Homo sapiens: one gene and its partners. The protein of the gene in region 3 purifies or fractionates together with the protein of the main gene of each other region. This does not show direct contact. Each region holds a gene or a part of one and is shown on either strand. Other genes may lie near its edges. The genes, in order: STX16, TEX264, GDPD5, LEMD2, MTARC1, GOLIM4 and NDUFA12.

The links.
Region 1: the proteins of GDPD5 (region 3) and STX16 purify together in Homo sapiens (co-immunoprecipitation; 2 studies listed by BioGRID and IntAct, with this or other methods). This does not show direct contact.
Region 2: the proteins of GDPD5 (region 3) and TEX264 purify together in Homo sapiens (co-immunoprecipitation; 3 studies listed by BioGRID and IntAct, with this or other methods). This does not show direct contact.
Region 4: the proteins of GDPD5 (region 3) and LEMD2 purify together in Homo sapiens (co-immunoprecipitation; 3 studies listed by BioGRID and IntAct, with this or other methods). This does not show direct contact.
Region 5: the proteins of GDPD5 (region 3) and MTARC1 purify together in Homo sapiens (affinity purification with mass spectrometry; 2 studies listed by BioGRID and IntAct, with this or other methods). This does not show direct contact.
Region 6: the proteins of GDPD5 (region 3) and GOLIM4 purify together in Homo sapiens (affinity purification with mass spectrometry; 2 studies listed by BioGRID and IntAct, with this or other methods). This does not show direct contact.
Region 7: the proteins of GDPD5 (region 3) and NDUFA12 purify together in Homo sapiens (co-immunoprecipitation; 3 studies listed by BioGRID and IntAct, with this or other methods). This does not show direct contact.

The regions. Positions count from the first base shown.
Region 1 is NC_000020.11:58,667,814-58,672,080, reverse strand, and holds part of STX16 (syntaxin-16), read right to left. Parts: intron 4,095-4,267; coding exon 3,954-4,094; intron 2,791-3,953; coding exon 2,628-2,790; intron 1,570-2,627; coding exon 1,478-1,569; intron 928-1,477; coding exon 784-927; intron 1-783. UniProt on the Homo sapiens protein: SNARE involved in vesicular transport from the late endosomes to the trans-Golgi network.
Region 2 is NC_000003.12:51,698,372-51,702,638, reverse strand, and holds part of TEX264 (testis-expressed protein 264), read right to left. Parts: intron 3,234-4,267; coding exon 3,065-3,233; intron 1-3,064. UniProt on the Homo sapiens protein: Major reticulophagy (also called ER-phagy) receptor that acts independently of other candidate reticulophagy receptors to remodel subdomains of the endoplasmic reticulum into autophagosomes upon nutrient stress, which then fuse with lysosomes for endoplasmic reticulum turnover.
Region 3 is NC_000011.10:75,519,152-75,523,418, forward strand, and holds part of GDPD5 (glycerophosphodiester phosphodiesterase domain-containing protein 5), read right to left. Parts: intron 2,707-4,267; exon of another isoform or gene 1-2,706. UniProt on the Homo sapiens protein: Glycerophosphodiester phosphodiesterase that promotes neurite formation and drives spinal motor neuron differentiation.
Region 4 is NC_000006.12:33,779,131-33,782,630, forward strand, and holds part of LEMD2 (LEM domain-containing protein 2), read right to left. Parts: intron 2,024-3,500; coding exon 1,947-2,023; intron 1,050-1,946; coding exon 970-1,049; intron 1-969. UniProt on the Homo sapiens protein: Nuclear lamina-associated inner nuclear membrane protein that is involved in nuclear structure organization, maintenance of nuclear envelope (NE) integrity and NE reformation after mitosis.
Region 5 is NC_000001.11:220,810,469-220,814,735, reverse strand, and holds part of MTARC1 (mitochondrial amidoxime-reducing component 1 precursor), read right to left. Parts: intron 1,445-4,267; coding exon 1,318-1,444; 3' UTR 1-1,317. UniProt on the Homo sapiens protein: Catalyzes the reduction of N-oxygenated molecules, acting as a counterpart of cytochrome P450 and flavin-containing monooxygenases in metabolic cycles.
Region 6 is NC_000003.12:168,026,013-168,030,279, forward strand, and holds part of GOLIM4 (Golgi integral membrane protein 4), read right to left. Parts: intron 4,025-4,267; coding exon 3,768-4,024; intron 3,291-3,767; coding exon 3,211-3,290; coding exon of another isoform or gene 3,208-3,210; intron 1,826-3,207; coding exon 1,716-1,825; intron 1-1,715. UniProt on the Homo sapiens protein: Plays a role in endosome to Golgi protein trafficking; mediates protein transport along the late endosome-bypass pathway from the early endosome to the Golgi.
Region 7 is NC_000012.12:94,993,193-94,997,459, forward strand, and holds part of NDUFA12 (NADH dehydrogenase [ubiquinone] 1 alpha subcomplex subunit 12), read right to left. Parts: intron 1,066-4,267; coding exon 978-1,065; intron 1-977. UniProt on the Homo sapiens protein: Accessory subunit of the mitochondrial membrane respiratory chain NADH dehydrogenase (Complex I), that is believed not to be involved in catalysis. Complex I functions in the transfer of electrons from NADH to the respiratory chain.

The DNA of each region.
Region 1 (4,267 bases), on a different chromosome or scaffold from region 3:
GATTACAGATGTGAGCCACCGTGCCCGGCCACAATATTTTTACTAGTTTTGTGCATAAAACAAAGTTTTGACTGCAACCTGTCACATGAGGTCTTGTGTAGGGATTTTCCACCTGTGGCATCATGTTAACACTCAAAAAGTTTTGAATTCTGGAGCATTTTGAACTTCATATTTTCTGATTAGGATTGCTATGTATATATATCCTTTGAGTGTCATATTGGCACTCAAAAAAAAGTTTCAAATTTTGGAGCATTTTGGATTTCAGATTAGGAATGTTCAACCTGTATTATCATATATCATATTATTATTGCATTCCTCTCATTTAATCCCTAACAAGCATCCTATGAGGATGGTACTATGATTATTAGTCCCATTTTACAGATGAGAACACTAGAGTCAGAGGGATTAAATGAGAATCATGTAACTGTTAAACTGCTAAGAGCCAGGGTTCCAACATTCCAACCCCCCAGGGCTTTTCTCAAAGCACCACACTCCTCTGATAATTAGCACCCAGGAGACTTCAGTAAAAAATGTAAACACTGAGGTTTCAACACTAGTCCTATTATTTTAAAATTAATCAAATTTAATATTTGATTAATATTAATATACACACACACACACACACACACACACACACACACACCCACACACACATAAAGGACAGGTGCACACACATGTTGGGAAAATTGGCTCCAATTTTTTTCCCTGAAAGGAGTACAGGAAAAAGAAGGTACAGATAGTATGGCAGGAAAACCTATTCACGAGGAAGGCCAGCTCACGTACCTGTTCTACAATCATCGCCCCTAAGTCCCTGAATATTTCATTCAGGTCAGAAATGGACTGTACAATCTGGCGAATCTCTCGTTCCCGCTCTTCCACCATCAGTGTGTTCTGCTCCACCAGAACTAACTGGTCCTCTGTAAAACCCTAGCAAGACAGTGCACAATGTGTTGGATAGATTGTTTTCCCTCTCAGGAAAGCTATGGTATACTTGTTTAGATATAATTTAAAGACAATGAAAATAATTTAAAGAAAATGAATTCTGAAAATATTTCTACAAAGCACAGTAAGCACTCATTTTTCCCTAACAGGAAAGATTCAAATTCCCTAAACCAGCAGGATCTAAAGCTCTGAGGCCATAGCAGGGAAGACAGAAGCCCACGTCTGCCAACTCCACAAGGGCAGATAAACAAAACCCCCGGGATAGCCCTCTGTTTCTCTGGGCTCTTCCTAAGAAGGCAGGGTGTTGACCACTTTCCCAAAGGCTCTGGAAAGCAGATTACAAGGTCTCCCTGTGGCCTTTGGAAAGGAAGAAACAGTACGGCTGTTCTTCCACCTGCTGCAAAACAACCTGATGAATATACAAGTCAACTGTATCAATCCACTGACACTGCACAGAAGATCGAGGTCTAGGAGGTGAAAGATGCAGAATGGGGTGCACAGACACAGCAATCAGCTTTGCAGCCCGTTCACGTACCCGATGGTAAAGAGTGTTATCGTCTCCATCATCCATTAGTGGTACTGATGTGTCGAAAAAATGCTGGGATCTTTCCTCTCGATTCTTCATGCCTATCACAGATAGGAATTCATTTTACTTGAATATGTAAACCATCCTGAGTATTGTTCTACCATTAAAAGGGGGAATTCTAGAGTAAACTCCAACAGTCAAAATTGAGATATTCTTAGCCGCTTTAAAGAAGCCTATCTCCAATGGGGGTGGAGGGAGAGTAAAGGATTACAAACATACAACAATATGCAGGCATTTGGGATTACTCAAGACAAAAGTCACAGTGTAAATGTGCACAATTCACTTGATGCCAAGATAAAAATGACACAACCATCTGAGAATCTCTAAGTGAAGCAGAAATATTTAATCTAACTGCTGTTACAAAACATTTTAAAAAATCAGTATTTCTCTCTAGAAGCATCTCTAGTATGAATTCCATATGGCCCTAATCAAATTTTGGAAATAATAAAATTAAAATACAAATATGCCAGTTGTCAGAGGGAGGGAGAACTAGGTTTTTTGGAGTATGTGGGGACTTTATTGATTGCAAGGGCAATTTTAAAAAACCCAGTTTACAGGGTGATTAGAATGAGAAGAGAGCTGAAATCTGGCTTTGCACTATTTGGGAAGAAAAGGTCTGCTGGGTGAAACCTGTGGTGCCAGCAGAGGAAGTGTTTCAAGGACCCTGGGGAGGTTTTCTCAGGTGCTCTCAAACACTTTGGTTGTTATGCAAATATGTGGCTTTCAGTAATAACAACTGCTTTTTACCTATTGAAGAGCAGCTCTCCCAAACCCCAACATCCAGAAAACAACAGGTTTTTAAAATGTGCTTGGTTGATTTTCAAATTCTTGCAGCTTGACACAAAACAAATTTTGTTTGCTGAGATGCTGAACTATCTTGGTGCCCTCCCCCAGCCTTGGTCGGTACCCCACGCTGTGCCTTCATTCCAAGCCAGGGTTTCACATGGGGAGGAGGCTTCCCTTTACTGTACAAGGTATGAGCATGTTCAAAAGCTAACAATGAAAGGTACTGGACTAAATGAAAAAATAGTGGCAAAAAAGAAAACATAAAGTGCTTTTCTTACTCAAAATCCCTTCACTAGGCCCGGGCAGCACTCACGTTTGAGGTAGCCTGACTGTGCGTGCCGGAAGCTGGTGGAGAGTTCCTGCAGGGCCTGCGCCAGCGAGGCCACCACGTTCCCAAGCAGCCGCCCCTCCTGCTCGGAGCAGGCCCGGGCCCGGCTCGGCAGGGCCTGCACGGCACGCTGGCACCTGTGGAAGAGCTAAGAGAACAAGCCCGAGGCTCAGGGCAAGCCTGGGAGAGAAGCCCCTCTGCTAACACTGCCACATCACAAGCCAGAGTGAGAAGTGAGAGGCTCTGTTCACTCAGTCTGGTTTAGAGAAAGGTGAACAGATAAAAGGAATCTGTGGCTTCATTTATATACACAGAAAGATTTCACTAGATTTCAGCTCCTGCTATGTAGGGCCTGCTGTGTGCCCAGCTGCTCACATATCATCACGTTAGACAGGCTGAGTATCCCTCATCCGAAATGCTTGGGATTGGCAATGTTTAGGATTTCAAATTTCGGGAGATTTTGGAATATTTGCAGAATACCTACTAGTTGAGTACCCCAATCTGAAAATTCGAAATCCAAAATGCTCCAATGAGCATTCCTTTGAGTGTCATATTGGCACTCAAAAGAAAGTTTCAAATTTTGGAGCATTTTGGATTTCAGATTAGGAATGTTCAACCTGTATTATCATATATCATATTATTATTGCATTCCTCTCATTTAATCCCTAACAAGCATCCTATGAGGATGGTACTATGATTATTAGTCCCATTTTACAGATGAGAACACTAGAGTCAGAGGGATTAAATGAGAATCGTGTAACTGTTAAACTGCTAAGAGCCAGGGTTCCAACATTCCAACCCCCCAGGGCTTTTCTCAAAGCACCACACTCCTCTGATAATTAGCACCCAGGAGACTTCAGTAAAAAATGTAAACACTGAGGTTTCAACACTAGTCCTATTATTTTAAAATTAATCAAATTTAATATTTATAAAAAATTTTTTCTAGGATACTAAGTTGTTTTTTCAATTATGAGGACTATAATTTAGCATTGAAATTTCTTAACACTAGTATACGATATTAGTTATACATTTTAAAATCAAATGATTGAACTCGATAATGTTTGAAATTTCATATTTACTTAATCCGTCCACAGCAGTTATCTGCCAACAATTGAAAAACAGTCCCCATACCTCCAAGGCCTCACAGGTACCTACGCTGACAGCTGGAGGACTTCAGGGCCTCTTGAGGTCCCTCTGAGAACTTCAGGTTGGGAAATGACTCCAGGAGACTGATTCTGAGTAACACTCTAGTTTCTGAGATTGCCATGAGAAGGCTCGCTGGTTTCCCCAGGACTCACTTGCACTCCTCACCTGAGTGATCTCTTGGGTAGTTATCTCAATGGCATGTTCCTCTTCGCTGCTGTCATCCAGGGTGGGTCTGTTTAAATGCTTGTCATGAAGGCTGGCCAATTCTTTCATCTTCTGCTTAATCCGGCCAACATCATACTGAATCTAAGCAAATGAAGTCACAGAACTCCACTGATGCCAGGCAGGCTATGGTCTGCCTCCATCAGCTACACTCAGCATACAGAATTCGGTCTTCAGCAAACTTGTTGGCTTGCTGATGTGTGAGCAGCTTTTAATTCAAATTACCAGAAAATCACATTCTTCCTTGTTGCATGGGG
Region 2 (4,267 bases), on a different chromosome or scaffold from region 3:
GTGAGGGGTTAGCCAGCTTCCCCAGCCACTGTCTCCATGGTGTTGGAGCCAAGCCAGGTGCAGCTGGGGTCTGCTTGGCGCCTGGACTCAGCCTGGGGCTTTCCTTGAGCCTCAAATGGGGCCTAGGTTGGGGGTGGGAGAATTAGGAGAGGGGGGAATTTGGGGTCTCTCCCTACCCCCACCACCCACTCAGCCCCCAGAATATGCCCTCTGGGCGCTACTGGCAGAGGTGAGGTGAGCCCTAGAAGCCCAGGCTGCTGGCCCAGGGCCCTCCTCTTGCTGAGGCCCCAGGTGTGGCTCCCAGGACAGAAGCCTGTGAATGAGGTGGTCAGGGAGCTGGGGGAGCTTTAAGTTTTGGGTAGTTTCTTCTGACCAGGGGACAGGATGCCAGGCCCTCACTGCTCCTTAAATAATGATCAGTGCCCCAGGGACCGCAGGCCTGAAAAGAGCAAAGGAGGGAGACAGTTTCTCCCTGGCCCTATTAAACTGTATGTTCTGTCTGCCCACCCACCCAATGGCTCTCTTGGGACCCCAGGTATAGGAATGTGCCTGCTTCCCAGCATGCTACCTCCTACCACCCAGCTCCTAGGCTAGGAATGTTCAGAGGAAGGAGCCTAGGGGTGCCTCCTTCAGGCCAGGACAGCCTGCTGAAATGAAGACAGCCCCTGGAGACATATATACACTTCAAGCAAAGGAATTCAGCTGGAGGCCAGGCACGGTGGCTCACGCCTGTAATCCCAGCACTTTGGGAAGCTGAGGCAGGTGGATCACATGAGGTCAGGAGTTCCAGACCAGCCTGGCCAACATGGCAAAACCCCATCTCTACTAAAAATACAAAAATTAGCCGGGCATGGTGGCAGGCACCTGTAATCCCAGCTACTCAGGAAGCTGAGGCAGGAGAATCGCTTGAACCCACGAGGTGGAGGTTGCAGTGAGCCAAGATCATGCCATTTCACTCCAGCCTGGGCAAAAAAGGAAAACTGTCTTTAAAAACAAACAAACAAAAAAAAGGAATCCAGCTGGGCATGGTGGCTCATCCCTAGAATCCCAACACTTTGGGAGGCTGAGGCAGGATCACTTGAGCTAACAAGTTCAAGGCCAGCCTGGGCAATATGGCGAAACACCATCTCTATAAAAAATACAAAAACTAGCCAAGCATGGTGGTACACGCCTCTTGTCACAGCTACTCAGGAGGCTGAGGTGGGAGGACAGCTTAAGCCTGGGAGGGAAAGGTTACAGTGAGCCGAGATCTTGCCACTGCACCACTCCAGCCTGGGCGATAGAGCCAGACCTTGCCGCAGAAGAAAAAAAAAAAAGGAATGCAATACGGGGAAGTAGCATCCCTATACCCCCACCAAGATCTACACAGGAGGAGGTCCCAGAGTCCCATGCCTGCATCCCTGGGCAGAAGATACCAGGCAAGGCAGGGCCCTACCTAAATCCCCACGACTACTGGGGCAGGGGACTTGAAGCCCACCCCCTTCACCCAAATCCCTCCCTCTCGCTCTGCCCACAGCCAGTGCAAGACGATCAAATATTCATCGCCTCTCTGAAGCTAAATAATACATCAATGTAATAACAGGCACAAGGCAGCTAATCACCCCCTTTCACCTCCCGGCCTAAGCTAGGGCCACAGCAGGGAGGCGGGCAGGGACAGGCCAAGCCTTGGGCAGTCAGACATCCTGCATGCACCCACCACCAACTGCTGTGTCAGTGGCATGCACCTGGTGGGCAAACACCGAGTCCCGCTGGGGTGTCAGGACAGGCCCTGTGAGAGGTGGGCAGACCCCTTGGCCCCAACACCAGGGAGTGGGTGGGCGGGCTGGAGGGGAGGAAAACAGGCTGAGGAGCTGGGGAATGTGGGAGCTGCCACTACAGCCAGCTGTAGTGGGTGCCAAGCAGTCCTTCAATGACCCTGACAGGCAGTGTTTGGGAGGGAAGGAAGCTGGGTGGGTGGGTCAAGGAGGGGGAGGCAGGCAGCAGAGGGAGGTCACAGTAAAGTGAAGGCACTCTGTCTTCCTGCCCTGGAGGCTGCCTGGGCCTGCTGACCTTGTGCCATGTCCTGTGCCCACAGTAGGGGCACTGAAGAGTGTCTGCCGGGCACTACCAGGCAGAAGGGAGCTGTACCCCATGGAGGTAATTAAGTGGCAGATGAAGTTAACTGTGTTGGACACAGGCCCCTAGGGAGTAGAGACTGCTCCCAATACCCTCCTACCCAGCCCTAGCTGACACGTCTCCCTAGGGTGACCTTGGCTGTTGAAGACTGGATGGGCAGAGCATCTGCTAAAGAAGGAGGAGAGGAGGGACAGTTCCTCTCCCCACAGCCCTGTACCACTCCTAGAAGTCACAAACTCCACCAGGTTGGCCAAGGATAAGGCCCCCTGGGACCATCTGGGATGTAACCCAGCAGACCCCCTTGTGCCTGAGACAGCCCGGGGTCACAGATCATTGCAGAGGGGTGGGCAGGCAAGCAGCCTTCCAGCCTGGACCTGGGGCCTTGAGGCTGCCAGCAGGAGTGTGGGCTGGCCCTGGAGAAAGGCACAGGTGACTGATCTCCTGGCTCCCCTCTGCATGCTCCCTGGTTGTTCCCTGGCAGGGAGAAAGCAGCTGGCTCTGGGTGGGGCCCGTACTGAGGGACAAGAGAACACTTTGCTCCCCTCCTTACCTTCCAGATCTATGCCAATCTTACTTCCTGCTGAGCCCCACCCAAGGGACTCCTTTCCTGAGCAGCCTCAGCCCCCTCCCATGAACATCGAGCTGTCTGTGATCTTTGTTTCCAAGGGTACTCCTGCTGCATCTGGAGGGAATCCAGGCAGGGTCTTTGTATCTGTGTTGCCAGGAGGTAATGTGTGTGAATCCACATCTATGTAGATCCATGTGTCTGGGAACAGGCAACTCCACATGTGGGTCCTCAGGTAGGTGGGTCTCCTTCCTCCCTCTGCCAAGCATAGCCTGACACCCACAGTGCCAACCCAGAGAGGGAGGAGCCTCCTCAACCAAGCCCCTGGAGTCCAGAAGAGAGGAGCTCCAGGAGGGCCCCATCCTCATACCCCACCTTCTGTACCTGTGCCATCCACCTGGGTGTCAATGGCCTCCACAAGCCCCCGCCATTTCCACTCTGTCTCCTTCATCTCAGGCACATAGAAGTCTCCCTGCCGTGCCAGTGGGCACATGAAATGGATCTGGTCTTCCTGGTAGATCTCCAGCCGAGGATAGGCACACAGCTTCCGCTCCTAGTCAGAGAGTGGCAAAAGGTAGAATGAGCCCTACAGGGCCCCTGACTCACTTGTCCCTGGGTGACCCCCAGAACTGTCTATTACCTATTCTGTCCCAGGGGCTGGCTCTGCCTCTCAACCTCTTCCAAGTTCCAAAGCCCTGCTGAGGGAGGCACACATAGATCACCCTAACAGCAGGGCCCCATAGTCCAGAGTGCAATAATAGTCTGAAGACCCAGGACGACACCCTAGGGCAGGTGGTAAAAGAACCCAGGAGCCTGGCACTGCTCTCCTATGTGTACATCTGAGACCAAAAAGCTGTTCCAGAAGGCACTGGTCTCACAGAGCCATGAAGCTTGGCACCCCTGGACCACCCCAGGATAGGGACCCCATGTGCCTAAGCCAAGGTCTCACCTACCAGACTTTCCATCCCAGGACCCCCTGGCCCTGACCTCCTCTCCACCCTGGACAACGCTGACTGACCCACAGATATCAGAAGACCAGCACCCCCAGTCCTTAGGCCTCCAGCCCCTGCTCTTGCAGACATGCTACTATAGACCCTGAACAAGGATCAAGGCCAGCTAAACACCACTTCCACTCCCATTCATTCCCCTGCTAGTTTAGAGCTATGTCAACCTCTGAGACTATCAGGTATGGTTCCCATACCTCCTCACATGTAAACTCAGGTTTTAGCTGATGGGGAAGAGGGAGACCCTGGACTGGAAGGTCAGGTAGGACAAGTAGATCTAGCACAGGACATTACCCAGTGGGCTGATGTACCACCTTTTGGGCCCCAAGTTCCAAAAGGCACTCCACCTCCCTCTGCCTAGACACAGAATCCAGTGCTCCCCATCCCCCAATGAGTATGGAGGGGCACAGACATGCCAGAGCCACCCTGAGGCAGGCAGGGACAGCCAGAACAGGGGTCAAGTTGCCTCTTACTCAGAGCCTGCCCCGCCACCTTTCCTGCGAAGGAGCACAAATACCCACTATGATGACTGCAAGGCCCCTGCCCTGTCACTGCTCACCCGCCAATCTTCACAACACGACTA
Region 3 (4,267 bases):
AGTGAGAGGCCTGTGGAGTCCACTGGTCCTGGGGTCTGCCCAAGCTCTCCTCCTTGCCAGCTACCTTTGGAGAGGAGCTACTCCTCTCTCAGCTCATTCAGTGCTGATCTCACAGAGGTCCAAAGTCAGCAACATGGGCACCACCTCCAGGAAGGCTTCCCTGACTCCCCTCCCCACCCAGCGCCGGGCAACCCCAGGCCCCTGGCCTTCCCTGTCACATTCTGTGTTGTCACTGCTTCTGTGTCCTCCCAACCCTACCAGGCTGTTCATTCATTCATTCCACGGAGCAGCTGCCCTTTGCCTGGGATTCATTCCAAACGCCTTTCCTGAGCACCTGTTTTCTCTAAGATCCTCTGTGAGGTGCTGGAGATACAGATCATAACAGCTAACCTGCACTGAGTGCTCATTATGTGCTGGGCATTTTTTTGAGTGCTTTACACGTATAATTCATTTCACCCTCACAACTCTATGATGAAGATGCTGTAATTATCCCCATTTTACATATGGGGAAACTAAAGCCCAAAGAGGTTAAATCACTTGCCCAAGTCATTTAGCCCTACCCTGTGCCACCAGCCACAGATACTGATGGGACCGGCCCCTGCCTCAGGAGCCTGCTTCTCACAATTTGGAAGTTTTGCATCTGTGTGTTTCCTTGTCTAATGCTGTTTCCCCCACAGACCAGAATCTCCAACCATGTTACATTTCGGTTGGATGTGTGTGTGAGCAGCACCAAATAAATGCTGCTTCCCTTTAAGGAAGAACTCACACTCTCTGCCCAGCATCTGCTAGCTGGACGCCAGACGGCTTCTCCCACCTGGGTCATTTCTTCTGCGTAGGCCTGAGAAGAAAACCCAAGTCCCCAGATATCCCAGTCCTGCTCCCTCCCCTGAACCTAGCTCGGGACCCTTCCAGGCCAACAGCACCTGCTTACACACCACTGTTCACAGGGAAGGTGGTGGGAACTGTGAATCTGCAAACCCCAGCTAAGTCCCCCTAAGGGAAGGCCTCCCTGCCATCTGGCACGCCCTCCCTCCAGCCATCACTCACTGGACTCTTCCATCAGCTTCTTACTGAGTTGCTCGTTCACGAAGCCATCGAGGGGATGGGCAAGAAGACTCATGCTGATGGAGTACCCACCTGTGTGCCAGGCCTGGACAGGCACCCCACTTCCTTCATCTCATTTAATAACAGTTATTATCAGCCCCAATGTACAGGGAAAAAACAGAGGTGCAAAAGTTGAGCAAGTTGTCCATGGGGCAGCTTGCACTGCCTCCCCTGGCCCGGAGGGTGTGGCTCTGTGCCAGGCACACTGCTAGGCACTCAGAGGGAGGGGAGGATTCGGTGGGGGCACATAGAATCTAGTTTTGACAAGCCAGCAAGGGAAGCAGACCAAGCAGAACCCCAATCCACAGACCACAGTCAGTGTGCAGAGGGCCATGAATCAGCAGCAGAGGAGGCTTGGATCCCACCTGCATGGGAGGAGTACTGGAAGCTTATAGCAGGCAGCATCTTTGGACCTGGTTGAACTCCTTACTGCTCTTTCCCATGGTCACAGCAGGAGAAAGGGTAAGCCTTGGCCTACAAAGCTCTGGTGCCCAGTGTGTGTTTGCCACCACCCCAAAGGGGGCAAAGGGAGGAGAAGCTGGCTGCCCTGCCAGTGACCCCGCTGTGGCCCGGCCAGCCTGCCTCCAGTCCCGCCAACTTGGCCTGGCCTGGCCCAGCCAGTTCCCAATCACAGGGTCTCCTCTGCCAGCTAATGACCATGCTGCCTGCAGCTCAGGCCACCACCCTCCTTTGGGCGAGGCAGCTACCCACACAGCCTGCTGGCCCAGACAGTGGCCAGGCCAAAAATCACAGCTGCCCGTCATACCACATCCTCTGGCCCTGGTGCTGTGGTCTCCTCCTCCTCCCTCCAGGGTCACGAAAGACGATGTAGAAAGCTGGAGCTACAGGGGAGCTCAGAACCCACCCTGCTCCCCATAGACATGGACACACGGGACCCCAGAGAGGGGCCGACTCACCCCAGGTCACACAGACAACCAGCCAGCCTGTGCACGGCCTAGGGCCCAGGTCCTTCCTGGGCCCCATGCTCAGTCCAACACTGCCCTTCCTTAGCCTTGAGAAAAAACCTTGTCCAGGCTTTTTACACACAAAGTATGCTTTCAAGGTACTTGGGTGGAGGTGAGGAGACAGGACATCTTCTAAGCACAGATTTACAATTCAAACAGATGCAGCTTGGCTCCCTGCTCCCTACCTTTGAGCTGTGTGACCTCGGGCAAGATCAGGTACCTCTCTGAGCCCCAGTTTCTAGGGGATAACAGTAGCTACCTCAGGGAGTTTGTGTGAACAAGAGTGTCTATAAAACATTTAGCACATTGTCTGGCTCATAGTAAGTACTCAAGATATCAGCTGTTGTTGATATCATCACTGTAGTATTGTGTGGATACATTTTACAAACTGCAAAATGTTATGGATAGTAGGTATTATTTTTTACTATTACTGCTGAATGTTAAAGATTCAGAGGGGGCATGACCAGAGGGTTGGGTAATCCAGGAATGTTTCTGAGGGAATTTATGACCTCAGTCAGGTCTTGACAGGTGGGGAGGTAAGTGGAGCAGAGGCAGGGATGGCGGTTCTGATGGGAGGAACCACAAACAAAGGGGCTGTGATGGGGCCACATGTGGTGTGTTTAGGAGACAGTGCAGAGCAATGAGCCAGAAGGCCGGGCAGAGGCTAAGGTGACCAAGGACCTGAATGCCATAACTAGGGCCTGGTCTTCATCTTACAGGCCGTAAGGAGCCACAGAGGCTTCTAAATGGGGGCTCCATTAAGCTTTCTGAAATGTGAGTTCTGTCTAACATTCAAGGCCCTCTCCTATATGGGCATTCACCCCTCACTAACCCCACCAAGCCATCCTCCTCGCCCCAAGTTCTCCCTACCTCTCGGCTTACCACGCTATCCCACCTGCCCCGCCACTAGCCCACTAGCTCACACTCATGATGAGGCACCCCCTTGTTGAGTGCCTAAAGTGCCGTGTGTTTCACACATGGGACCTCAAGATGATCCTTAACAGCCTTGAGAAGTGGACATCACAACCGTCATTTCACAAAGGGGGAAATGGAGGCCTGATGGGATCATGTGTCTTTCCCATGCTCTCAGTGAGGCGGTGGCACAGCCAGGATTCCTTCTTGGAGGGATGTCAGGACCCCCCGTCTTTGCAGCAAGTTTCCTCTAGCTCCTGCCCAGACAGCCACCTCCCTGACAAAGCCTTCCTGGTTACTCCAGTCCTCAAGGGCCTCCCCTCCACCCCTTTCTGCCCTGTACCCTCCCCCTTACTCCTCCCCGTCACCACCTCTCTGGAATCAGAGGCCCACTTGATCCTAGCTCAGCTAGCTTGGTTCCCAGTGTTGCCTGTGGGACCATCTGGCCCCCAACAGAAGAGACAGGACATCATCAACCCCAGCTCTCTCCTGTTGGGGGCCAGATGACACTTTCTCCCTGTCCTATCCTGCCTGCCCCCCCATATCCAAGACTGCTAACAGCACAGACAGGAGCCCCCACCTCCTCTGGTAGGGTTCAGAAGCTCACTGAACATAGAGCTATTTCCCTGAGCCTGCCCCCAGCTGAGGGGAGTATTAATTATTCACTGCACCTTGGTGCCTAGGGAGGTCAGACAATGGGCCCGAGGGAATGGACACCAGCTCCAGGCACCACAGCCCTGCCAGCAGGAAGCCAAGGGAGGGGGTAAGAATCCAGAGCCCCTTGCCGGTGTCCCCAAGCAGACTGATTCTAGAGGCTATGAGACTAGGGGAGTGTGACCCACACAGCAGCCTGAGCTGAGCAAATTCAGGTCTCTGAGCCTGCCCTGCAACCATATCCTGCGTTCTAATCGAAGACAAGTCTGAGAATTTCCCCAGACTTCCTGGTCAAACTTCAAGCTTCCTTTTCTTCATAGGGATGGAAACGGATATTTGGCCAGGCACTGCATCTTTGTAGCTCATTTAATCCTCGCAACAACCTGCTAAAGGAGGTATTCTAATTTTATAGGCTCAGAGGGATGAAGTGATTTGCTCAGTGCCACTCAGCTAGTGGGAGGCACAGTAGACTCACGCCCACCTGGTCTGTCTGATTTACCACTATCTGGGATTCACCAGTTACTGTGGCTCGAGGCTGCCGCTTAGCCCGTCTGGGTAACTTCCAGGGCACCTGGTATGCAGCTGGCACTCAAACAGTTCTACAAGCAAACTCAAAGGCCCTGGGGAAGTGG
Region 4 (3,500 bases), on a different chromosome or scaffold from region 3:
CAACATGAAAAGGTGAGTGTCATCATTCTTCTGTGTTAGCAGCTTCAGTGAGCGCTGCTGCTGAGGATAAAATCCGTATTCTCCTCCGCCTTTTCTAACACAGGAAAATTGCTCAGCTACTCAGGGCAGCTTTTTTTTTTTTTTAAGCCAACAAATTTTAATCGTGCCATGCATCCAGTTATCCAGCTTGAGGTGGAGCTGCCCGAGGGGCTTCTGCTGGATGCAGTGCTGATGGAATTAGTAATTTGGGTGGATTAGAGAGGAAAAGAACAAAACTCTAGAGACGTTTTAATATCAAGAGCTATAACCTGAACAGAGACCCCCACAAACACCGAGAGTGGGAAGTGGGGAAGTGATGCTGCTCTGCCAGCAGGGGACAGGTCTCTCAAGGCTGCCTGGCTGTTGGCTGACACGCCCCTCCCCCTGGGCTGAGCCGCCAGATACAGCCTTTCAGCCTCATGAAAGGGTTTGCTACCTTTTCTAACAGTGCTCACCAGTGATAAAAATGAGGCAGAAACTGCCTGGTCAGAATAAAATCCAGTATTTCCTTATGCGATTTCCATAGTAAGTAAAACCAACATACAGAAAGAATAATTTCATCTACAAATAAAAACTAGCTCCCGAGGAGGGGAAGTGCAGAAAAATGCCTTCCCCAACAAACCATGTGGTGTTGTTGATGAATGAGAAAGGCACAGACTGAGTTACCTGAGACAGGATTTAGCTGGAACACCAGGCTAACATCCTAACACCTGGATTTTGTGTCTCATCTTGAAGCTGCTCCTTACACTGCATTCCAAATGCTTCTTGCTTTTGTTGCCCCACTTCCATCCTAACCCACATGATTCTGCTGGGAGACCCAGCCTCCAGCTTCAGACCTGAGACAGCTCTGTTGGAGCACGGGTGTTAGCTGACGAGCGAGGACAGTGGTTGCAGGCACCCATGCTGCGTCGCCACCCTGCCCACACTCACCAGATGCCCACGTCCTTGTTACTGCTCAGTATCCAGGTCAGTGCGGCTTCAAACTTGGCGGAGGAGCTGCTGGTCACATTCTGTGGGAGGGCGCGGGAGAAGGTTAGTTCGGCGTCTGGGCGGAGCAGCTGGAACATTATTCTGCTGCTGGATTAAGGAAGCCCTCTCCCGTGTCCTCCACAGCCCCAAAACCCTGTTCTGCTAAAAGCACAGCAAAGTGGCAGGAAGGAAATCGGGGGTTGATGAAAGCCAAGGAAGAGGCTATAACCAGAGGAGGTGATGCGGAAGCACAAGCAGGAAAACAGTGCGGGTCTGAGGCGGCCAAAAGAATATGATTCTCTCGAGGATGGAAGCATCAGGCCAGAGAGCTGGCAGCTCATCTTAGGGTAAAGCGAATAACAGCGTTGTGGCTGGGGGTGGGTGAGCCCAGTGGCCGGTGCAAGTGGTCTGGCCTCAGGCAAGTCCCTGACCCTCTCCAGGCCTCAGTTTCTTCATCTGTGAAATGCAAATGGAACCAGATGACCCCTAAGTTACTGGACAGGCAGGCGACCTGGAATACCAGCTCCATAGTTCTATAATCTACCATCCTGAGGCCACACAGGAAATCAGACGGCCCCTGGGCAGTCTGAATGGTAATCATACGGGGGAGAAGGGACAGCATGTTTCTCCTGAAAGCCGAAGGCAAGACGAGCAAAGTGAACCAAGGGAGAAGCAGGTAACAGGCACACCTACAGTGCAGCAGTCAGGAGTGAGCCGCCCCACTGCACATGGCGGCCTGGCTCTGGGGCAGTCACTACCATGGCTGCCTTAACTGAAGGTAGTCTAGCACAAAAAGCCATAAACCAAACCTTAACTTAAGGTAGCCTAGTACAAAAGCCACAAAGCAAACAAAAAACAAAAACCCCAACAGGGCTTGAAAGACCAATAGGAAAGCACCAGGCCCTCCCAGGAATGTATAAGCACTGAAGCCTACTTACGGCTATATATTCTTGGGCTTCCATAACAGGAATGCATTTGCTTTTTAGATTCTCTGGATTTCCACACTCAAAATTACCTAGGAGAAAAAAAACCACACATGCTCAAACACAAAGGAAAAATCACTCTGAAACAGACTAAAAAATGCAGCAAGAATCAAGCCATCAGCTCTAATAAGGAGCATGTTGCCCAGCGGCTCCTGGCTTCTGTGGGGCATCTTCACTCTGCAGCAAGATCAAAAGCCACTTAGCTTGGATCGATTCCAGATCATTAAAACCTGACCTGCAAAGCAGTGTGGCATTTTGCATTAAATGACTAAAAAGCTGCCCAATAGCAAGGTCTCTTTGCAATTGATCCCTAAAAGAATCAGACAGATAGCTTCGGAAGGTACCGGAATGGCACTATAAATAAACACAGCCTGAGAAAAAAGAAAGGCAGGGAGGCCATGGGCACCACGGGGATTCTGACTCATGACACAGGCAGGCGACCTGGAATGCCAGGTCTATTGTCTTGAGGGGCCCCTTGGAGGAAGAGGATGTCTGTGTGCTGGGCAGTGGGGCCTCAGCACAGCACGCCAAGGGGCAGCTCCCCCGAGTGGCTTTGGAGGCCTGCTCCCATAGGATGGAGCTGGCAGCCTCCCACTTAGTCCTGCCCAACCTCCCCGGTCCAGCCCAGGGGCCATCTCCCCTGGGAAGCCCTCAGCCCCTGGGGGCCTTTTGTTTGATGAAATGGCCCCAGATTTGGTGACCTGCCATAGCCCTTGGTCCTCGCTCCTGTGCTGTGGTTTGCCTGACTCCCCGAGAGCAGGGAGGGTGCAGGGCCACGCACGCATACACTATTTAACACGTGTGCGTGGCCTGACTGCCCTGACCCAGCACAGCCTGGGGGACTTCGGGTGGCCAGTGAGTGTGTTTCTGCATGCTGGGGAAGGGAGCAGCTGAAGGTCATATTTTAAAACTTTGAAACTGAACTGAAGCCTGTCGCCTTCCCCTAACACAGCCAGATCCTCCTACTTCAAAGTTGATCTTGACCCCAGGGGTCCCCTGAGACACAGGTGGCTTCTAGCATCCTCCTTTTCCCACTAGGACTCTTCCTGCCCTTGCCAGGCCTGCCTGGACCACGTAGATGGCCTCTCGATTCGGTTCCTCCTCTCCCTTTCCCAATCCAGTTGTTTTGTCAATAACACTTGAAAATGATTCTGCTTAACTGTGCTACTCAAGCTGCTGCCGCATTCACCTTCCTGGCACCTGGCTCTCAGCATGATACTCCCTTGCTCAAAGCCTCTCTGGCCCTCACTGCCTGCCAGATCAAGCTCTGGTGGCCTGGCATCCAAGGCCATCTATGGTAGGGCCCAACCAACACTTCCAAACTTCATTCTCTCATCTTCCCCTTCCTCCATGAAGGTGCTGCTTCCCACTCGAGATGTAATTTCCTGCCGCTTTGCCTTGTCCTTCCCCACATACATGTAACCAGTCTTACCTGGGCTTCAGGGCCTGGCACAGATGCTACCTCCTGTGACGCTCTCCTGACTGCTCCAGCTAAAAGGCATTGTGCCT
Region 5 (4,267 bases), on a different chromosome or scaffold from region 3:
AGGGTCTCACTCTATCACTCAGGCTGGAGTGTAGTGGTGCAATCATAACTCACTGCAGCCTCAATCTCCCGCTCCTGGGCTCAACCAATCCTTCTACCTCATCCTCCCGAGTAGCCATAGCCAGGACTGCAGGCACACACCACCACACCGAGTGCATTTTAAAAACATTTTGTAGCGACAGGATCCCATTATATTTTCTGGGCTGGTCTCAAACTCCTGGGCTCAAGCCATTCTCCCACCTTGGCCTCCCAAAGTGCTGGAATTACAGGCATGAGCCCCTGTGCCCAGCCTCAGTCAGCTTTCACAGTCTAACTTTGTGCCAAGAAGTTAGTAAGATCTGAAACTAGTCAAAGTAGCTTCCATTTATTCACAGTTTTAAAAACATTTTTCAAGTTTAGTCAACTTCCCAATATAATCAAAGGACAAAATGGCAATAAAAAATATACTTCATCAGATCTTAGAGTTATACAATCAGTTAAAAAATAGATATTGGGTTTTAAACAACTGACATATGCTTTCCTTTTCCCCCTTTAAAGGTTTTCAGTAGTCTATCTGAAATCACTGAATCACTTTTCTTCTCCTCCACAGAATTCAGAACTTTTTCACCCGGAACTGGAGAAGGAGCACTCCGTCATTAGCTGAGGGGAATGGCAAGGATCCAGGGGTCCTCCATGACTACACAACCATCCTCCTGAGCACCTTTAGGAAATCCAATGCTGTCTGAGAAGCAGCAGGGCCAGATCCAGATCTATGGAAAATTAATATCTGCAGTGCTTCCTGAAGGTCACCTCAGTCTTTATGCCATTTCAAAAGCTAGCCCGGGGCTTGAGAAGAAAAGGGAAGTGGCATTCCAGCCATATTTGGGGTGCAATTTAATTTTCATTGCGTACCTCATGAACAGGGGCAATAACACATTCTAGGATATTCTTCCAGCCCACCCACTCTTCCTCTTTCTCTTCTTCTCTTTCTCTAACGAGTGGTAGTGACAGGATGCAAGTCTGCGCTCTTGGTAGATAAACGGAGAAGCAGGAGAAAGAACTATTCCATAATCAGTTAAACGGGGAGTTTTCAGAATCCTGTCTTGTCATTTAAGTGACTTACTGAAGTCCTACTAAGTTATTGAGACTATATTTCTTTACTTTTTGCACTGGGACATTGAAGCATTGAGACACCAGAAGTCCAAAAGACGAAAAATGTGAAAATCACAAATTTAAAGAAAATGTAGAGGTCTCAGTTCTGAAACACCATGCTTCAAGTGTTGTCATTTTTGAGAACATTTTTAAAAGGCATCTAATATTCCAGGACATACGGTTCCCATTACTGGCCCAGCAGGTACACAGGGTCTCCCACTTTGATGGTCCCTGGGTTTTCCAGCACAAAATACTGCCCAAAGAGTGGTGATTTTCCATATAACTTTCGTTCTGAAGGGTCACACTGGCGATAACTGCAATAGGAAAAGATCATGATGAGTCACAGCCAAGCGGATGCAAGAGCTCAACCAGCACGTGGCTTCCATCCCACACAGGGCCTCCGCACGCACAGCTCGAGAGGGCACCATCCCGTCAAAGCTCAACAGAACAGCGCCTCCTGGAGTGGGGCAGTGAACAGCCTGCCCAGCAAACAACGACAGAAGCATAAGCAATGGCCACATCCCCACATCTTTTCTCTACCTTCATGTTCCCCCTTTCGGCATTAAGACGTTAGATACTTGGCCAGGTGTGGTGGCTCATGCCTGTAATCCCAGCACTTTGGGAGGCCGAGGCTGGCAGATCACAACCAGGATGGAGATCAAGACCATCCTGACTAACACGGTGAAACCTCATCTCTACTAAAAATACAAAAAATTAGCCAGGAGTGGTGGCAGGTGCCTGTAGTCCCAGCTACTCGGGAGGCTGAGGTGGGAGAATGGCATCAACTTGGGAGGCGGAGCTTGCAGTGAGCGGAGATTGTGCCACTGCGCTCCAGCCTGGGCAATGGAGCAAGACTCCGTCTCAAAAAAAAAAAAAATTAGATACTCAATGTGTCTAGACATACTTTATCATCTTCCTTTGCCCTAGGCATCTTTCCTCCTGTCTCCTCCATGTCTGTCACCTGAACCACCATCCTAGCCGTCACTTGGGCTGGGAGCCCATCCTTTACACCACTGTCCTCTCTTCCCACAGCCTGTCCGCAGCTGCCGAGTTCCAAGGTTCTTCCTGTACAACATCATTTGACTTGGCTTGCTTTTCCTCATTCCGACTGTCACGATCTTGCTTCCAGCATGCTCAGACTATCATAATAACTTCTTAACCAACCTCTTTTCCTCATTCTCTACCTGTTTTCAATTCATTGTTGACACTGCACTATATCACTGTTTTAATTGTGTTCTGGTCTTATCATTCCTAGGCTCACAAACCTTCCGTGGCTCTCCAGTGCCTAAAGAATAACATTCCAACTATTCAGCCTGGTATGTAGGGCTCTACCTGGCCCCAGCCTGCTTTTTCAGACCTGTTGCCATCTGCTCCTTACCTGTGCCTCTGCAGCTCTCTGCTGGATTTCACCTTGCTTTGCATTGTACTGACTCGGTAAGTCCTCTGTGATTCCTGTGGGATGCTCCTCCTCCAGGTCCCCATGCTTTAGAATTGTACCTGCCTCAAGGCCCAAATCAAACACCACATCTCCCAGGAAGGAAGCCCAGGTTCCCCCAGCTACGAGTAATTCCCCCTCCTCAATTCTCTTTGCCCCTCCAATACTCACACATCTTGTCCTGTAATGTCAGGGCACAAGTTTGTCTGTTCTACAAGGCAGAGTCCCTGGAGAACAGGAACTGTGATTAATGCCCTTGTACTGCTCACGCCCAATGCCGGGCCTCCTACATCACCTGTGACCCACCATTGTTTGCTGGCTGGATTAGTATGCTCATGAGTAAAACCGTCTGTCAGAGGCAGTATAAATATGAATATTTTTGTCCAGCAGAAAATTAAAGAAGACGCAGGGAGAGGGTACATGAGCAGATGTGTGGGACTCACATGGCAAGATTCCCCCACCTTCCCCACTGGGAAGAAGTTAACCTTCAGTTTTTTATTTAATCTAACCCTAATTTTACATCATTTTTATATTTAAAACATTTTAGATAAATCATTCATTTTATTCTGCCTTGCTTTAAAAAAAAGTGAAAAAGTGACTGCAACAACTTGGTTCTAATGTTGTTCTTCAAATCAGAAATTGTTAAGGAGAAAACAGAGAGTCAAATCTAGAACCACCTTCTGGAGACCTGCAGCTCCTTCCCCAGACTGTAAACATCCTGTAGGCAGCACTGTGTCCACTTTGTTCTCTGTTGCATTCTCATGGCCTGGAACAGTGCCTCACACATACACTGTAACCACTCAAAAATAATGTTGGTTGAACAATGAATGAACAAATGAATGGATGAATGAAAATAACAAGCTGCTGATGCAGGCTTCCCTGCCTTGCCAAGAGTATTTCCTCTCTCTGTAATCAGGTTTCTGCAATGCCCTTGGACCTGACAAACCAGGCATCTCTCCTAGCCTGGCTCTCCTCTTTCAGCATGCAACATTCATGACATTCTGAGATCTATCTGTCAGAGGGTGACCTCTTCAGGAACAGGGGACACATCAGCTGCTTGTATGGGTGTTTCCGTTGCTGCCAAGCTCTGCAGTCTAAGAGTCCAGACTCTCATTATCTTGGGGAGAAATTGAGAGTTGGAGTTCTGCGCATCACACATGGATAGTTTATAAGGAACTTTACACATGTTCTCTTTTTTAATCCTTACAACCTGCTTATGTGGGAATTTGCCTTTTCTTCATTTTACAGTTAAGTCTCAGGGGGAGTAACAGACTTGCCTGAGATCACAGATCTAAAGGATCCAGCTGGGGCCAGAGCCCAGGCCTGGCTGACTTCAGAGTCTAGTGGACTCTTCCCACCCAGGATGTAACCCTGGTCGTCGACATCCTCCTGAGTACACCCACAGGCCTGAGAAGAACCGAGGGGTCTCACAATTTAGTCACCTACACCAATTTCTAGCCACTTACATTTTTCACCTATCCCTTCCTGCCAACCAAGCACAGACACACTCACTCCCCCACCAGGTAATGAGGAGCAGAGGACCGTAAAGAGCGGCTGCCCCTCTCGGCACAGCCTCCCTAAACTGCACAGGTCGGGGTGAGGGAGCTGCTTTGTGAAAGTGCAGGTGTGGTCACCGGCTCACAGGTGGCGGTCCACTCCGCTGTCTAGGAGTAGAAGCGGGAAGAGCTATGGGAGTGGAAAA
Region 6 (4,267 bases), on a different chromosome or scaffold from region 3:
CTAAGAGACAGTAAAGCCACAGAGTAGGATTTGGTCTCTATCAGTATTCTCCAGACAAGATTCTACTTCAATTCACTTAGGAGTCTTGAACATGTTTGAGAGTTCACTGCCATCTCAGCTGATCTATTATCTGCACATCCCTGGCCATGAATGTTACTCCAGTGCAAATGACACTATTCTTGGGAACGTAGAGACTACCAAATTACCACCTTCACACTAAACTCTAATTACTCCACAATCTCTTGTCATATGGATTTTCTTTAGTGCACTATCAAAAATTTGTATGGAATTACAGGAAAAATGTAACATATTCTTTTCAGAAAAAAGTACCAAATATCTTTTGCAAACGTTCATAAAATTGACTAGCTCAACTCCGACCACGTAACAGGTATGAATTAGCAGGCACAGTTGTTACGTTCAAATAAAACAGAAAGAGAGGAACAAGTGGGATTAACCATTTCTAATTAAAAGGAAGAATGGTACAAAGGCCAATGTTTCCCAGCATGTTCCCCAAAACAAACAAACAGATGACAGGAAAGTAAAGGATCATATAGTCAAGAAATCAAAGCCTACAGCAGTTCCCAAACAAGTGACTGAAATGCCCTTCCTCCCACCCCATGCACATTTGCAGGCCTTTGTACACTTGCTTTCTTGCTCTCTCCTGGATAGTCTCTTGCTCTCTCATATGTTTCTGCTCTCAAGTATTAGCCTTTTCCTGAAAATATTTCAGGACTAGGTTCCCTGGAGCATATTTTCAGAAATCTTGATGCAAGGAATGCCAGGGAAAGGTGTTCTGCCACATCTCAGTGCAAGTTAAGTGGAAAAGCTGTTTCCAGCAAAAGGGCTTTAAGTAGCTAGCAGGATGACTTTCTTGATGATTAGCAAGGACATGGGTCCTCCTTTTAATCAGGGCTCATGTGACATAGCACAGACCGACTGTTATAAACATGGTAGTTGATCTATTAGCAAGAGATGACAGGGCAGCTAAAATAAGCTGTAAAAATCATCTACGCATACACGCAGGAACAGACTCACTAAACATTTGCTTGCTTCACTTGTAGGCAGGGCCAAGGATCTAGCCCACCCAGCTGAACTAGAGGTCTCAGTCTTTTTTGGTAAACACAAACAACAATGCTGGTTATTAGATGTCTACCTACTTATATTATAAATTTTCTGTACCATTGCATACCTGAACAACTCTTCATGTCTCAGACCACATATCCTTATCCATATATTTATTAAAATGGTCACTAGACTGCTAAGAGATTACAGAGAGTCACACAAATACCTAACACTCTAGCAGACTGCTCAACATGCTCAGGAAGGGTTAGTTTCCTTTCTCTGGTCCCATCTCCAACTTCCACACTTGCCTTTTATTCCTCCTAGCTTTCAGAGTTACTACATATTTCAGTGTCTCTCAGTTTTGCTTTTCTAGGTTTTAGTTTTATTAATCTAAAAGTCATCAGAAAAAAAAAATCCTGGTTTTGTTTTTTTTTTTCCCCCAGAGCAACTTTTAAACCAGCTCATCACATACACGTACACCATGGTTTACAGTTAAAAACACTGCCCATATATAATTATGCAAGCCATTTTCCTTCTGGGCTGAGGATATAACAGAAATATCTGGGGCTGAAGGCTGGCATCAGGCAAGTTTTCAACTCTCTTTCCCACCTTATGAGTTTACATGTGTCAGGGGCAGAAGAGAGGATACTTACATCTGCCTCAGATTCTGGGTCGGCTTCTCGGGGTCCTTGTTCACGAGGCTCATGTCTATTACCTGGATCTCCTTCTGCTTCATCTTGGTGCTGGTTGTCTCTTTCATAGGCTAGCAAATCAAAGGAACTAAAATCAGCCCAAAATGAATCAAACAGGATTTCCCTTTCAACTCAAAGAAAAGCCACCAGTGGACTTTTCTACAGACTACAATACCTCCACCTCTGTTAACTCAACATAAGGCCTATGTCCTGGCTTTTCTGAATAAGGTTATGTTCTCTTCACAGACTGTGTGTCTAGAGAGATGATATGGGTCAGACACTTTTCTTCTAAAATAAATATTTTTCACAGGAGCTGTAATTTTTCCCCCATATGCAAGAAAACAACAACAATCAAAACTCTCTCAATAAAAGAAAGCCCAGTTGATTGGACACTGCTGAAGAAATCAACTAATGTTTGATAATATCAGAGGAAGTAGCTGGGCTCCAAAAGAAGAAATTGATAGTTTCAGGAAATGCAAGGAAGAACTGCCCCATCTGTGGAGCTCAGAAACAAATATAGCCCATCACATGTTTTCTGATGTCATCACAGTAATGATGATGACCGCCACAGCCCAGAAACAGCACACATTCATACTCAGACATTTACTTGCTGCTTTTTGAAAAAATATTTAGATAAAGAGAATTGTATGAGCACAAAAAGAGAAGAACAAATCACTTTTTAAAACAAGTAAGATAGAAGAGGAAAGTTTAAGTATATGGAGTGTACTAAGCCTAGAGAAAATGATGATACGGGGTAACTTACCATCAGCCTTCAAGTGCACAAAGGGGTTTACTACATAGAGAAGAGGACAAGCCATTCTCTAGTCTTACTGATATGAGAACAAAAAAGCTTAAAGTGCCACATGGCGGACATAAGGAAAACAATTTCTTGACTGTAAGAGCTGTAAGATATCACAACGGGCTATTGAGGGAGGTTGTATGTAATCACTTTCTTTCTGACTTTTTAGAAAAAGATACACATCTAAGTGTTAGTGGTGCCAGAGAGACAGTAAGTTACATTCTGGTTCTATTATAACAGTAAGCAATATTTGATAAATTACATATTAAGTGCTTATCATAAATGAAAGCTACTATTGACTTAATTTGAAAACATTTTAAGGCAATGATGTGAGGACTTCCAAGGTAAGGAGAAAATGCAGATGTTTCCCAAAGCATAATAATCCTATAATAATTTGTCAGAAATATTATAAATATTTAGTATATAAAAAGCTTAAACTACAGGGAAAATGATAGAGAGGAAACAGATTATCTTGAGCATTTTTCACTACCAGCATGTACTGTTTAAGAGGATTAAGAAAAAGACATGATTCACAAACCTCCTTTGCACTTAGGTATGCATACAGCTCATTGATGTTATATAATATTGGCTCACTGATAATATACAATGTTATCAAGTAATTTATTAAAACATTCATCATCTAGGAAGTCTCACCACCTCCTTCCTCTCCTTGGATTCCCTGGTCCTCTGCTCCCTGAACGATATCATTATCCATAGCATCATAATGAGCTTGCTGCCTACAAGAGACACAAACATGATAAATCCAGTGGGACAAAATTCAGAGGCACAGTTTGACATAGGTCATTTATCTTTAAAGACAGTAATAAGTAATGTTTCTCAACATTTTTAAGAAGCCATGAAAAATTTTTAAAAACCTCTTATGTATGCAATTAGGTATAATAAAAATTCCAGATACACTTTCAAAAGGTATCTTAAAAAGATAAAATATCTTTTAAAGATAAAATAAAATAAAGTTGGCACAAAGCCTGCAAGGCTATTTGGAGACCTAACCTACCACTTTTGAGCAGAAAAAAAATATTATTTTTAAAATTAAATATTTGGTATTTAATTTTCAAGTAGCTGTCCTGCCTTGGCTATTTGAGCAATATGAGCCCCTTAACTTCATGAATCACAAATGCACAAAACTGTTTTTAATTTGCGTATGAAAACTGGAGCAGGGGCTGTCTTCGTTCATTAAGGAAGGGGAAGGCTACCGGAGCTGCTCCTGGTGCTGCGGCCGGCCCTCCTCAAGCTCAGCCTGCCTCTGCAGGGCCATCTCTCTTGCCACCTGCTGCTGCTGCTGTTCCTGCTGCCGTAGTAAGTGCCCCTGCAGCCTCTGCTGGTGCAAAGCTTCCTGGTGTTCCCGCAGCTGCTGGGCCTCCTCCACCTGCTGCACTGCCAGTCTCTGCTGTTCCAACTGTTCCTCATAGGGTGATTGGAATTTGATCATTGGCTTGGCTGAAGGGTACACCTAGGGTGAAAAAGAGTTGGTGCAGAGCAAGAGGGGTTAGCTCCTCTGGGTTTTCTCTTCATTTGTTTCTCCTGACAAACTCAGGAGGCAGAGCTGGTTTATTAACGACTATTTGTCAGGTGAACTGTGATTATACATGAAGTCCAAAAACTCCTATTTCCCAACTTTCTCTGAATCACCCTTGGCTTTTTTAGCAGCTGATATTTCCAACTACTGCTATTAAGGCAGATTTTCAATGTGCTC
Region 7 (4,267 bases), on a different chromosome or scaffold from region 3:
AAAAAATAAATAAAAGCTGGGCATGGTGGCTCATGCCTATAATCCCAGCACTTTGAGAGGCCGAGGTGGGTGGATCACTTGAGCCTAGGAGTTTGAGGCCAGCCTGGGCAACATGGCGAAATCGCATTTCTATAAAAAATACAAAAATTAGGCCGAGTGCAGTGGCTCATGCCTGTAATCCCAGCACTTTGAGAGGCCGAGGCGGGTGGATCACCTGAGGTCAGGAGTTCAAGACCAGCCTGGCCAAAACGGTGAAACCCCATCTCTACTAACAATACAAAAATTAGCCAGGCGTGGTAGCATGAGCCTGTAGTCCCAGCTACTCGGGAGGCTGAGGCAGGAGAACTGCTTGAACCTGGCAGTCAGAGGTTGCAGTGAGCCAAGATCATGCCACTGCACTCTAGCTTGGGCAACAGAGTGAGACTCTGTCTCAAAAAAAAAAAAAAAAAAAAAAAAAAAAAGCCAGGCACGGTGGCTCATGCCTGTAATCCCAGCACTTTGGGAGGCCGAGGTGGATGGATCACCTGAGGTCAGGAGTTCGAGACCAGCCTGGCCAACACAGTGAAAACCTGTCTGTACTAAAAATACAAAATTAGCCAGGCGTGGTGGCTCACACCTGTAGTCCCAGCTACTCGGGAGGCTAAGACAGGAGAATCGCTTGAACCTAGGAGGTGGAGGTTGCAGTGAGCCAAGTTTGTACCACTGCACTCCAGCCTGGGCGACAGAATGAGACTCTGTCTCAAAAAAGAAACAAACAAACAAATTTAAAAACAAAACAAAAATTATCCGGGTGAGATGGCATGGGCCTGTAGTCCCAGCTACTAGGGAGGCTGATGTGGGAGGATCACTTGAGCCTGGGAGGTCAAAGCTGACATGAGTCATGATCATGTCACTGCACTCCAGCCTGGGTGACAGAGTGAGACCCTGTCTCAAAAAAGAAAAAAAAGAAAGACAAATAAAATGTTGTCTTAGCTTACCATTCAGGAGGCACCATGCTTCCATCCACATCCCAGAATGTGTTTTTGCCATTCATTTCAGTAGTATATACAACCCATCGGTGACGGCCTGGGTGGGAAGATGAACATTTAAAAAGAAAAACTTTTTTTTTTAAAGCATAGATGCATAATATCAAAGAAGACAACCTTTTTATTAAGAAAAGACTTTTTGTGATCTTATATAAGAGAGCTATTGGAGGAATAACACCCTGGGTGAATTCGTGAAGGTAAGCTCCAGGAGGTGTGTGGCAAACTTTAAGCAGCAACCCGCAGCAAGGACTGAGATGATTCACTGCTGTGGGTGGGGCTCAGGCCTTTCCCACAGGGGAGAATCCTTGCTTCCCTGCCAGCTCCCCACAGAGGGAGTAGCAGACAGGATAGGAAAGTGTGTTCCCAGATGTACAGGGTATTCAGAAAAGAAGGTGTTCCTCTTGAGACTGGGGAAAAAACACATTTGTAGCAATCATACTTGAATTCTATGTCTCCACATAAGTATTTTTTTAAAACCACCCTAGATCCTTTTGGAAATTTGTGAATTATATACAATAAGCAAACATTAGAAATGATGGTTAGGTACATAGGACAGCTCATGTCATCAAAATAATATGGCTGCACTCCTCATTTAGGAAATTTCTGTGCACTAGTTGAGGGGCCTAACCACTACTTATTTACACAATTGGGTCCTTAAACTGAGCAAAGACTTGGGCTTTGTCACTTATTATCAGTGGTTATTAGGCAAATTTTATGAGCCTCAGTTTCTTTATCTAGTAAAAGTGGATGACTATACCTACATCTTAGAGTTGCTGTGAAAATTAAACATCACATACATTCACCTAGTTCAGCATCAGCCATATAAGCACATAATAAGTATTAATTCCTTCTACCCCTTCCTTACTGCTCTTACCTGCCAATAGGGAACACTGAATCCATTCATTCCTATGATGGACTTTAAACCAATAAGTAAAAGGTAATCTGCATTTCATTTACAGGGTTTTCCCAGGTAAACATATAATCAACAAAAATTGACTAACGGTACTTAAACATGACCTCATCTCTTTTTAAAAATACAGATTTCAATCAACATTTACTGCTTCATTTAGAGAAATAAATCTTAAGAATAGCTAACTAAAAGTAAACTATAATCCAGTGAGGCAGGGGAATGTGCAGGCAGATGGAGGAGACCTTGGGAAAGGTTTCATAAGTCAAGCCCTGACAATACAGTTAGGCTATAATGATGGAAGTGGGCCCTAACAATCTCTCTCTCTCTCTGTCTGTCTCTCTCTCTGTATTTCTTGAAATGTTAAATGCCTATTCTCAGACTCAGAAATTCAACTTTATTTATTTATTTATTTATTTATTGGAGACGGAGTCTCGCTCTGTCGCCTAGGCTGGAGTGCAATGGCGCGGCCTCGGCTCACTGCCTGCAACCTCCCCTTCCTGGGTTCAAGCGATTCTCCTGCCTCAGCCTCCCGAGTAGCTGGGACCATAGGCATGTGCCACCATGCCTGGCTAATTTTTGTATTTTTAGTAGAGATCAGGCCAGAAATTTATTTAAACACATGAATGTAGTTACAAGCAGGTTTACAGTAGCATCATTCCTAATAGCAAAAAGTCAAAAGCAATCTATGTGTCTATCGATAGTAACAGGATTGAAGAAATAATGGTTCTTCCATACACTGGAATGTTGTGTTGCTATTTTTAAAAATGCTGTGCATTTTTTTTTTTTAATAAACACAACTGGCTGGGCACGGTGGCTCACTTCTTAATCCCAGGACTCTGGAAGGCTGAGGCAGGGGGATCACTTGAGCTCAGGAGTTCGAGACCATCCTGGGCAACATAGTGAAACCTTGTCCCTACAAAAAATACAAAAATTAGCTGGGCATGGTGGCACATGCCTGTAGTCCCAGCTACTCTCAAGGCTGAGGTGAGAGGATCACTTGAGCACGGGAGGCAGAGGTTGCAGTGAGCCGAGATCACACCACTGCATTTCAGGTGGGGCAACAGAGAGACCCTGTCTCGAAATAAAAGAAAAGAATTTTAAATATACATAAAGACTAAACTATTGAAAGAGTTGCAAAATTATAAGGGGAGGGAGCTTTCATACACCAAATATATATAAATACATACATATATAGGTACACACACACACACACACACACACACACACACACGAGATGGGGGTCTCTATGTTGCCCAGGCTGGTCTTGAACTGCTGGCCTCAACTGATCCTCCCACCTTAGCCTCCCAAAGCATTGGGATTACAGGCATGAGCCACCATGCCAGGCCCTAATTTTTTTTTAATTAGCAAAAATAAGAATATTTCCAATGCAAGGGAGAACAGAAGAAAGGAGGCTGGCTGCAGTGGCTCACACCTGTAATCCCAGCACTTTGGGAGGCTGAGGCGGGTGGATCACGAGGTCAGGAGTTCAAGACCAGCCTGACCAACATAGAGAAACCCCATCTCTACTAAAAATACAAAAAATTAGCTGGGCATGATGGCGCATGCCTGTAATCCCAGCTACTCAGGAGGCTGAGGCAGGAGAATCACTTGAACCTGGGAGGTGGAGGTTGCAGCGAGCCAAGATCGTGCCATGGCACTCCAGCCTGGGCAACAAGAGCAAAACTCTGTCTCAAAAAAAAAAAAAAAATTAAAGAAAGGAAAGAATGTAATATTATAGTTTGTAACAATACAGTGAGAAGTAGAAAGAATAATTACCCCAGGTTCTGCCATTAATTACATGATTAAGTCTCTTTGGTAAAGATACTTCCTTGGGCCTCAGTTTCTTCATCTATAAAACAATAGTTTTTAGACAATCTCTTAAAATCTATTCTAGGTCTAAAATTCTGTGATTTATGTATTAAAAATATCATAACTAGGTGTGACAGTATGTGCCTGTAATTCCAGCTCCTCAGGAGGCTAAGGCGGGAGGATTGCTTGAGCTCAGGAGTTCAAGACCAGCCCAGGTAAAATAGTGAGACCTCATCACACTCACACATACACACACACACGCACACACACGCACACACATAGAGTACATAAGATGTTTACTTCTTATAGACCAACATGCATCCAAAGCAACCACATTCCTGAGAAATATTCCTAACTATTCAATGACTTACCTTCTTCATCTGTGAAATGGGGGCGGAGGAGCACAGAAGTGCTTATCTCAAGGAGATGTTGAAGATTAAGGTAGATAACGTATGTTTTTGTTTAGCACAGCACCTAGCACATGGTAATCACTCAATAAATGCCAGGCAATTATTTTTTCACG